Linked DNA regions of Homo sapiens: region 1 is linked to region 2. The links come from fine-mapping of genetic effects on gene expression. A gene starts in region 2. The other region holds a variant in brackets. All regions are shown on one strand. Distances are from middle to middle.

Region 1 (5,370 bases), 94 kb after region 2:
TTGTAGCCACAGCTGGAGCCTACGTCCTCTGCACAGAGACTCTGGTGTGTGTCTTGATGAGGTGGTCAGTGAATTCCTGATAGGGAGACTTGGTGAATCCTGTCTCCTTCCAGAGGTCGGGGGTCAGGTAGCTGTAGGTCTTAGAGATGGCATCAAAGGTGGCCTTGGCGAAGTTGCCCAGGGTGGCAGTGCAGCCCCTGGCTGAGGTGTAGCAGTCATCAATACCAGCCATCATGAGCAGCTTCTTGGGCACGGGCTGAGACGATGCCAGTGCCCTTGGGCGCAGGGATGAGGTGCACCAGCACAGAGCCGCAGTAGCCTGTCACCTTGCAAGGAACGGTGTGGGGCTTGTGGATCTTGTTCCCCCAGTAGCCTCTGTGCACAGGGAGAATGGAGAGCTTGGCCAGGATGATGGCCCCGCAGGTGGCAGTGGCCACCTCCTTGGAGCACTTAACACCCAGACCGACGTGGCCATTGTAGTCCCCGATGGCAACAAACGCCTTGAACCTTTTCAACTGGCCAGTGTGGGTCTGCTTCTGCACTGGCATAATCTTCAACACCTCATCCTTGAGAGAGGCCCCCAGGAAAAAGTCAGTGATCTCAGATTCCTTGATGGGCAGGAAGAAGAGGTAGTTCTCCAGGGACTTGATCTTTATGTCCTTAACCAAGCAGCCCAGCTTGGTGACAGGCATCCACTCCTTATCCTTGGCCTTGCCTCCACGAGCTCCGTGGCCTCAGCCCTGTCCACAGCTGCAACCCCAGCCCCTCCATGGAAGCCACCACGGTTTCCCATCCCAGGGCCCCCGGGGCCTCTGCCCCCGCCCCACCCCCTCCACCGACATCATCTGCCATTTGGTGTTTTCTCAGAGAAGAAGCAAGGCAAAATAGTCTTATGTCATATAACATTGAAGCTTCTAAAGGGCTTCAAGATATGTGACTGTATCACTTAATTGAGGCAATAGCCCTTGCTCTTCTGGCTGCTTCTGTTTGGGGAAATTATTGAGTAGGTAGTCTGGGTAGGTGGTACATAGTGTGATTGTCTTCATTCTTTGCTGAGGTTTTGAGTTAGCTTCAGCAGTTCTTCTTAGGCCTAGGATGTCACTTCCCCTTTGCATAAACTTTGTTATGCACATGTGCTTCAGATAGAACTAATTATATTTTTAAATTACAAAAATTAAAATTTTTCCTCTTAAGGAGTTTGGGGCAGCAGTCTTCTTTGTAGAATCATGTGTTTCAGAGGCACAGGTCTACTTTAGAGAAAGTGAGATTAAGGTTCTAAACAAAGATACAAGGCCATTTAAAAAATACTGTTGCCCCCTACACATTTCTCTTCTTTCCCTTTTGTTCAGTATGGTTTGTGTGGATAATTACTGTCCACTAAAACCAGGCCACAGGACCATTGGCATACTCAGGTTGTCTCCTGACAGTGAGTCTAGTCTTCAACCAATGATACAGGCCATTTATATCCTTTGTATGTAGATGTTTGGGCCTGGCGCAGTGGCTCATACCTGTAATCCCAGCACTTTGGGAGGCTGAGGTGGGCCAATCACTTGAGGTCAGGAGTTCGAGACCATCCTGGCCAACATGATGAGATCCTGTCTCTACCAAAAATACAAAAATTACCCAGTGGTGGCGCATGCCTGTAGTCTTAGCTACTCCAGAGGCTGAGGCAGGAGAAGCTTGAACCTGGGAGGCAGAGTTTGCAGTGAGCCCAGATTGTGCCACTGCACAGAACAAGACTCTGTCTCAAAAAAAAAAAAAAAAAAAAAAAGACGTGTATGTAGATGTTTATTTTTTAAAAATTCATTTATTTTTTTATTTTTATTTATTTATTTTTTGAGACAGAGTCTTGCACTGTTGCCTGGCTGGAGTGCAATGCTGCAATCTCGGCTCACTGCAACCTCCGCCTCCCAGGTTCTAGCAATTCTCCTGCCTCAGCCTCCTGAGTAGCTGGGATTACAGGTGCGGACTACCATGCCAGGCTAATTTTTTGTATTTTTAGTAGAGATGCGGTTTCTTTGGCCAGGCTGGTCTCGAACTGACCTCGTGATCCGTCCACCTTGGCCTCCCAAAGTGCTGGGATTACAGGTGTGAGCCACCGCGCCTGGCCCCTTTTAAATTTATTTTTAAGAGACAGGGTCTCACTCTTGTCACCCAGGCTGGAGTGCAGTGGCACGATCATAGCTTAGTGTAGCCTCTAACTCCTGGGTTCAAGTGATTCTCCTGCCTCAGCCTCCCAAGTAGCTAGGAATACAGGCACACACCACCCGACGCCCAGCTAATTTTTCAAATTTTTGTAGAGATGGGGTTCTCACTGTGTTGCCTAGGCTGGTTTCAAACTCCTGAGCTCAAGTGACCCTCCTGCCTCAGCCTCCCAAAGTGATGGGATTGCAGGCATGAGCCACCATGCCTGGCCAGATGTTTGTTTATTTTTTTTCTGAGACTCTAGTAGTCTTTCTCTTCCTTTATTGAATCTGTTAAGTTTTATATCAGGTTTGGATGATAGCCAAGTTGGGTTTTAGTGTCTTCACCTTAGCAGCCCTGTATGTAGGACTGTAATTCTACTCAAAAGGGAACATGAAAGGTAATGTGAAAAATTCTAAAACACTTGGCTTCTAAAGACTTGTGGATGTTAGGTTGATTTCTCCTGTTCATCAAAGTAATTTGCACATTTAATGTTCCATTCATGGAGCTATTTATTTAAAAAAAATTATTAACTTTTTAAAAGACAATGTCTTGCTCTGTTGCCCAGCCTGGAGTGCAGTGGCGTGATCATAGTTCACTGTAACCTCAAACTCCTGGGCTCAAGTGGTCCTCCCAGCTCAGTCTAAAGAGTAGCTAGGACTATGGGCTGCACTGCCACACCTGGTGAATTAAAAAATAAATTTTTAGAAATTGGGTTTCTATCTATCTGTGTTGTCCAGGCTAGTCTCCTGACCCCAAGCAATCCTTCTGCCCTGGCCTCTCCAAGTGCTAAGATTACAGGTGTGAGCCATTGT[G/T]CCCAGCTTATCGCCTAATTTCTTCTCCTTATTCTGACAGATTGAAGGAGTGGGATTTTTTTCCCTCTGATTTTCTTTAGGGAATAGAAGCAAACAGCTTTCTTGGGGCATTTTTGGGACTCATCAACAGAAAAGAATGGAGAGTTTAGGCTCTGAAGGACCTTTTAAAATATGTATACATTTTTAACAGCTTTATCGAGATGTAATTTGTATACTATATAATTCACCCATTTGAAGTGTACAGTTCAGTGATTTTTCGCATATTCAGAGTTGTGCATCCCTCACTACAATCAATTTTAGAACATTTTTATTACACCAGAAAGAAGCTCTGTTCCTTTAGCCATTACTCCCTCCACCCTACCCCCAGCCATAGGCAATCACTAATCTACTTTCTGTCTCTATAGATTTGCCCGTTCTGGACATTTCATATAAATAGAATCATATAATATGTGGTCTTTTGTGACTGGCTTCTTTCACTTAGCATATTTTTTTTTAAGGTTCATCCGTGTTTGTAGCATTCCTTTTTATTGCTGATAATATTTTATTGTATGGATATACCATGTTTTGTTTATCCATTCATCAGTGGTGAATGAATGGATAACATTTTGATTCTTTTCACTTTTTGGCAATTATGATTAATGCTGCTCTGAACATTGGTATAAAAGTTTTTATATGGACATACATACATTTTTTAAAAACTTGTTTAACAGAGATTTGTAAACACAAAAATGTAGAATAGTACAGTGAAACCCCATGTCCTTATTACCTAACTCCAACAATCAGTTTTTTTAAATAGATAGACTTTATTTTAGAAAACAGTTGAACTTAACCAAGGCTTTCCGGGAGTATCCATCGCTGGACTCTTTCAGGGTATAGGAGATTGTACCCTTTTTAGGGTTCTTACTACAGCCAGTTCTCTTCTCATATCCTTTTGGAGTCCTGGGGAAGGAGGACATGAGCTTCTAATAAGCAACCTGATTTCTGCCTATATGTATGTGATAGCTTTTTTAAGAAAACTGTTTTTATGCCTTTTTTCTGTCTCTACTGGAGATTCCAAGTCTGGACTACAGCTTTTTGAGAGCCATCTCATTTGTAGCTTCTTGATAGTTAGTACTGGTTTAGACCTTGGGCTAGTATGCCGTTTCATGGTGACATGTAATAGTTCTGGTGGGGAGCTGAATGTGGGAGTGTGAATGAACTTGCCACTCCTCATGGAGCCTATGTTTTTTCTCCCTATACTAATATGGTCAGAGACTTTTTGTATGGTAGATGGTGTTTTGGCAATGGAGTGACTCAACTCATGAACATTCCTCTCTGGAAATAGGTGTGTTTATGGCTGACAGACCTATAGAGAAAAATTTTTACCTCAGTTTGATTTCAGAAATCATCCTTGGTTTATTCCCATTTATTCCTATTTCATACTGCATTGAAACCTCAAAATTTCCCAAATTCTTAGGAAGAAGGTGGGTAACAGAAACCTGGATTCCCACAGGTGGCATTCTTGTTAGAGAAGGTAAATAAAGTTTGTCCTTGATAACCTTTCATAAATTTATTCCTAGGTCTACAACTTTGATCAAAGGCAGGCTGGTGAATAAGAAAAGGCAATGTTTTGAGATTCTGCTGGCATAGTCTCAGAGATAGGAAAGCAACTACTAAAAAAACTAAGGAAAAGTCATTTCTAGAAACTCACAACAAAAGTAGCTACTAGAAACTGTAGAAGACACTAATAGTTACCATCCTCTAGATGATAATTCACTCTGGAATGTGAGTGACATGTAAGAACTTTTATTTTTTATTCAGAGTACTTAGAAGTTTTCATACATAAAGTGCTAGAGGATCTTTATTTCTATCTGTGATTTAAATCAGAAACTTTAGTTTTGTGTCATAGCCATAGCCCCTGAGAAGGTTAGCATTATTGGGTGTGGTATAGAATTCTCAGCTAAAAGAATAGCTGTCCCATCCTGGATTTTTACCTCATGCCACAAAGGTCTGAGACCTTTGTATTTAATGAAATAAAAATATATGGTGAACCAAACCATCACTTTCTCTTTTCTAAGCCCAAGATTAGCAGAGTGCTTGTAGATATCCAGAGAAGGCAAAGAGGGTGACAAAACAGGCTGTGAGAGAGCTTTATGGGTTTTAATATGTGAACCATCAAGGCAAAGCATTGGAGAACCTTCTAAATCTTATGAGAAAATCATGCTAATTAGATAAATCAGTAGTTTTTTTAAAAGTTACCATATAGTGATACTTTTTTTTCCCAATTGAATTATTAGAACCTTAATATACAGACTTAAAGTTGGAATTAGTGTGATTTAACTGGGATAGAAGGTCAAGAGCCCTGCTGGTTCTGCTTTTCTAGTACCTCCTT
Region 2 (5,370 bases):
CCCAAAGTGTTGGGATTACAGGCGTGAGCCACCGCACCTGGCCTTTTTCTTTTTACTTTATTCTAAAAAAATGTTAGGCTGGGCACGGTGACTCATGCCTGTAACCCTAGCACTTTGGGAGGCCAAGGCCGGTGGACCACTTGGGGTCACTTCGAGACTAGCCGGGCCAACATGGCGAAACCCCGTCTCTACTGAAAATGCAAAAATTAACTGGGCAGGCCGAGGGCAGTGGCTCACGCCTGTGATCCCAGCACTTTGGGAGGCCAAGCGGGCAGATGACCTGAGGTCAGGAGTTGTAAACCAGCCTGGCCAACATGGCGAAACCCTGTCTCCACTACAAATACAAAAATTAGCCTGGCTTGGTGGGGGCGCGCCTGTAATCCCAGCTACTCGGGAGGCTGAGGCAGAAGAATTGCTTGAACCCGGGAGGCGGAGGTTGCAGTGAGCCAAGATGGAGCCATTGCACTTCAGCCTGGGTGACAGAGCGAGACCCTGTCTCAAAAAAAAAAAAAAAAAAAAAGAGTTAATTAAACAAACAGAATTTTAAAAAAATTTATTGAATACCTACTATGCCAGGCATTGTTTTAGACACTGGGGATGCTGTGATGAGCAAGAAAACATCCCAGACCTCTGGAGTTTGCTTTGTAGTGGGGAGATGGTCAATAAACAATAAATATTTAATATAATGTCAGATAATGATATCTGACAGAGAAAAGCACTGAAAGTCTCGAGAAAAAAAAATTAGCTGGGCGTGGTGGCGCTGTGCCTGCAATTCCAGCTATACTGGAGGCTGAGACGAGGTTGTACTGAGCTGAGGTTGCACTACTGCACTCCAGCCTGGGCGACAGAGTGATAATCTCAAGGAAAAACAAACAAACAACAACAAAAAACAAGTTATAGATGTTCATTGTTTAAAAAAAAAAAAAAAGGGGCGGGCGCGGTGGCTCACGCCTGTAATCCCAGCACTTTGGGAGGTCGAGGCGGGCGGATCACGAGGTCAGGAAATCAAGACCATCCTGGCTACCATGGTGAAACCCCGTCTTTACTAAAAATACAAAAAAAAATTAGCCGGGCGGGGTGGTGGGCGCCTGTAGTCCCAGCTACTTGGGACGTTGAGGCAGGAGAATGGCGTGAACCTGGGAGGCGGAGCTTGCAGAGAGCCGAGATAGCGCCACTGCACTCCAGCTTGGGCCACAAAGCGAGACTCCGTCTCAAAAAAAAAAAAAAAAAAAAAAAAAAAAGTGTTAATGCTGAAAAGTATTAATAAGAAAAAAAAAAAAACCTCTATAATTCGATCATCCAGAGAAAAGCACTGCCAATGTCAAAGTACGTTCTTCTTTGTTTCCGGCTTCCCCCCACCGCACTTTACATATTCTTAGCTTTTTTGGACATCTTTAGACGTCAAAAAAAAAAAAAAGTATTTTTAACAGTCACATAGTGTTGATGTGCCATAATTTATTTGCCTACAGTAATTTTTGAATTATAGGTTGTTTGCAATTTTTCACCAAAAAAAAAAATGTGTTTAAACAAAATGAATGGTACAGCCATGTCATTACTCAAATTCAGAGAGCTCTTCAGGGAAGAGGCGATCACAGCTGAGAGGAGGCCAGCTAGGGAGCTGAGTGGGTGTAAGTGTTATATCCAATGGAGACTGCAGGAAAAATGAGCCCTGGGGCTCTGTGCCTGTGGAGGTGGCTGTGTGAAGGTGGGAAGCTGCTCTGCCCCGACTAGCGACTGCTCCTTCCGATGTTTTGAATTTAAAGATGGTGAAATCTCAATCTGAAGGACTAGAGATGGGCGCTAGCGTTCCTGACCTCTGCCCTGTTGTCCTGCACAAACTAGAAATTATGTTCTGGGTCCTTGTCTTTTTTTGGGGGGGGGCGGGGGTCGGAGTTTTGCTCTGTCCCCCAAGCTGGAGTGCAGTGGCGCGATCTTGGCTAACTGCAACGTCTGCCTCCCGGGTTTTCAAGCGATTTTCCTGCCTCAGCCTTCCGAGTAGCTGGGATTACAGGCGCGCACCACCACGCCTGGCTAATTTCTGTATTTTTAATAGAGACGGGTTTCACCATGTTGGCCAGGCTGGTCTCGAACTCCTGACCTCAGGTGATCCGCCCGCCTCAGCCTCCCAAAGTGCTGGAATTATAGGCGTGAGCCCACCGAGCTTGGCTGGGTCCTTGTCTTGAAATGTGTCTCTGAGCCATTAGCCAGAAGGGGGCAAAGAGGCCTGGAGGGCAGCTTTCCCCCACTCCCCCTCCGTTACTCTCTGAATCTGAGCTCCAGGTTTGGGCAGTTGAGGTTTAGCCTGAGGCCAAGGACGAACGTGATGGGGTACAGGAGAAGACTTGGCGGTGGAGGGGGTTTTGTGTGCACATTTACAGAGTCAGGGGCATTCCCAGTCCAGAAAGGATTCTCAGAGGCAGTCACAAAAAGGAATGGGGTGGAAGGGCTGAGACTTGAGGGAGGGAAGGGTGGTGGGGGTAGGGCCGGGGTGTGGTTGGGTGGATCGGGTTGATATTTATATAGGGATAGGTTGATCTTGGAAGGCTGGAGACGGCAACGTGGACAGGAAGAAGCGGAGGGCGAGGAGGAGCAGAGGAGCACACAGATGAAGCAGGTGATGAAGGCTTTACAAGCGGGGAGGCGTGGGCTGGTGACAGGCGGAGGGCGGGGAGCGATTGCCTGCGTGTGCATAGATCTATATGAGAAGCGTGATGAGCGGCGGACAAGCGAAGGCAGGGCTGGGGCGTGGGCCGCGGAGCGCTGGTCGGGAAAGTGGGCATGGGAGATGAGAGAATAACGGGGTTGCGCTCCTTTGGCTTAATAGTTTGCTCCCATTGAGACTCCTAAGATTTCCTCCTCTCTTGGAAGGAAGCTGGGTTCGGGGCGTTGGGTAGCCGCGGAGGGCCGGGGCCCCGGGGCGCGCCGGGTGCTAGGTGTGCGCCGTGCGTCGCGGGGGGGGGGATGGGGGTGGGGGCGGGCTCCGCCCCTGGCAGGGGGCCTGAGCGCGCGCGAGGAGCAGCCGCTGCCGCCGCTCGGGGTCGCCTGGAGCCCCAGATTCCCGAGCGCTCGGCTCGCATGGCAGCCGCTTCGGCGCCCGGCCCCGCGGCCAGCTAGGGGCGGCCCCGCGCTCCCTCACGGCCCCTCGGCGGCGCCCGTCGGATCCGGCCTCTCTCTGCGCCCCGGGGCGCGCCACCTCCCCGCCGGAGGTGAGGACTGCGGGGACAGGGCGCGGTGGGGATTCCAGGCCCCGCGCCGCCGCCGAACCCAGCGCGGCGGAGATAGAAAGGGGACGTGGGAGAGAGTGGTGGTGGCGGGGGGGGGGGCTGTCGGAGCTGTGGGGCGGAGACTGCTCGCTGCCGGGAACCGTCCTTCCCTCCGGCCCCCGCGTCCCCTCCGTGCTCGAGGCCGCCTCTCGGCGCTGTCCCCATCCCGCGGACCCCTCCGTCCTGACTACGATCCCAACCCCAGCCATTCCCGCGCCTGGCCTCGCTCCGCGATGCCCATCTTTCCCCTCCTTGCAGACCCCGCTCCCGGGTTCCTGTCTTCGCTCTCCTCGCTCTCTTCGCCTGCTCAACCCTTCCCTGCCCCCATCCTCCCGCTACCCCCATCCCCTTCTTCTGTCCCGGCGCCCCTCTCCCTCGTCGGCTCCTGTCACTTGGAACCCGTATCCGTGCCGCTATCTCCGCGTCCGGCCGCCTCCCAACCGGTGCCGTCCCACAGGTGTCCACGCGTCCGGCCGTCCATCCGTCCGTCCCTCCTGGGGCCGGCGCTGACCATGCCCAGCGGCTGCCGCTGCCTGCATCTCGTGTGCCTGTTGTGCATTCTGGGGGCTCCCGGTCAGCCTGTCCGAGGTGAGCGCGCCCGCTGGGCTCCAGTCGCGGCCCTGTCCAGCCGTCCTCGCTTGCACGTTGACCTCTGCCGGCCGGAGGCGGCACTGCAGTCGCTCCGACCCGCGGGGCAAGCAAGACCGAGGTTGCCTTTTTGGAATGGGATGAGTTTCTGTGTTATGTCCTGCCCTAGGGTTGAGTCCGCTCAGTTACTGGAACCCCAATCCTCTCCTGAGTCCCGCATCCCAGCGAGCTGTGCCCTGACTCAGACTCACCCCTCCCACATCAATCTCTTGCAGCCGATGACTGCAGCTCCCACTGTGACCTGGCCCACGGCTGCTGTGCACCTGACGGCTCCTGCAGGTACCTGTCCTGAGCACGTGCCCCCAAACCCTTTGGTACCCATTTCTAAGCCCTTCACGTGCACAACAGTGTCTAGGGGCTTCAGACTCTACTCTTCATGCCTCATCACTCCTATGGCTGACTGGCCAGTCCCCCTTTCCCCTTTACCTCACCTCTCTTGCTTCTTCTAGTTTTTATCTCCCCACTTCTTTAATCTCCCAAGTCTGATCCAGGGATTGTCTGAACTCCTGACAGGGAGAGAGACCTAAAGCTTGAGAGAGCTTGGGGATTGGGTGCCATGAGGAAATGGAAAGATAAAGGAAAAAGGGAAAGAGAAATGGTTTAGCCTGGAAAAGAAATGCTGCAGGGAGAGTTGCTGGGGAGAAACACTTACAATGAAAGAGGATCTTTCTTGATGAGTTTGAGTAGTTGACTCACTGGGAGATTGGGCAAATTCTGTAGCAGGAGGAAAGTGGACATAAGGAAATGAGTTGATGAGGCAGGTAGTTCAATTGGCTGGGGGTCTTTGAGACTCTTCACCCCTGGAGGGCTTTTAAAATATGGGTCAAGTGTTTGCCCTGGAATCATGGTGGGAGGATAGTCCTGATGACCTTTTTTGTTTTTATTTTTATTTTTTGTTTTTGAGACAGAGTCTCGCTTTGTTGCCAAGGCTGGAGTGCAGTGGCGCGATCTCAGCTCACTGCAGCCTCTGCCTCTTGTGTTCAAGTTCCCCTGCCTCAGCCTCCTCAATAATGGATTACAGATGCACACCACCATGCCCGGGTAATTTTTTGTATTTTTTGTAGAGACGGGGTTTCACCCAGTTGGCCAGGCTGGTCTTGAACTCCTGACCTCAAGTGATCCACCTGCCTCGACCTCCCAAAGTGCTGGGATTACAGGCGTGAGCAACCACGCCCCGGCCCTGATGGCCTTTCAAGGTCATTCTTCTTTAAATGTTTGTGAGCACCTCAGACATGCCAGGAGGGGTACTGGAGGCATTTACAGACATCTTATTTCTTCCTCTACTCAACCCTGCAAGGTGTATCCCCAATTTACAGGTGAGAAAACTGAGGCTCAGGTTAAAGTACAGAACCAGGGTTTGAGTGCTGGTGTCTGATGGTCTGATTCCGTATATGTGTCCTATGACCCTGCACAGTCCTACACCTACCTGGGACAGGTCTGCTTTCCCTTAGGGGCTGTC

The links. PIP is the estimated chance that this variant, and not a neighbour inherited with it, causes the effect. A credible set is the group of variants that fine-mapping cannot tell apart.
Region 1: its variant is the best candidate, but not a certain one, in a credible set for the expression of DLK2 in whole blood (INTERVAL, PIP 0.52).

What each region holds. Positions count from the first base shown.
Region 1 is chr6:43,358,920-43,364,289 of GRCh38, reverse strand. All of the region lies in intron 2 of ZNF318 (zinc finger protein 318), which reads left to right. It also overlaps the pseudogene RPS2P28. Among named protein-coding and RNA genes, the nearest start is that of ZNF318, 8.0 kb to the left of the region's middle. The variant G/T (reference allele first, on the strand shown) is at 3,000.
Region 2 is chr6:43,453,231-43,458,600 of GRCh38, reverse strand. It overlaps DLK2 (delta like non-canonical Notch ligand 2), which reads left to right and starts at 3,053. Exons shown (of 6, transcript NM_023932.4): 1 at 3,053-3,206; 2 at 3,721-3,851; 3 at 4,127-4,190. The coding sequence starts at 3,776. RefSeq lists enhancers at 1,555-2,396, 4,025-4,074 and silencers at 2,995-3,234, 3,335-3,384, 3,415-3,494.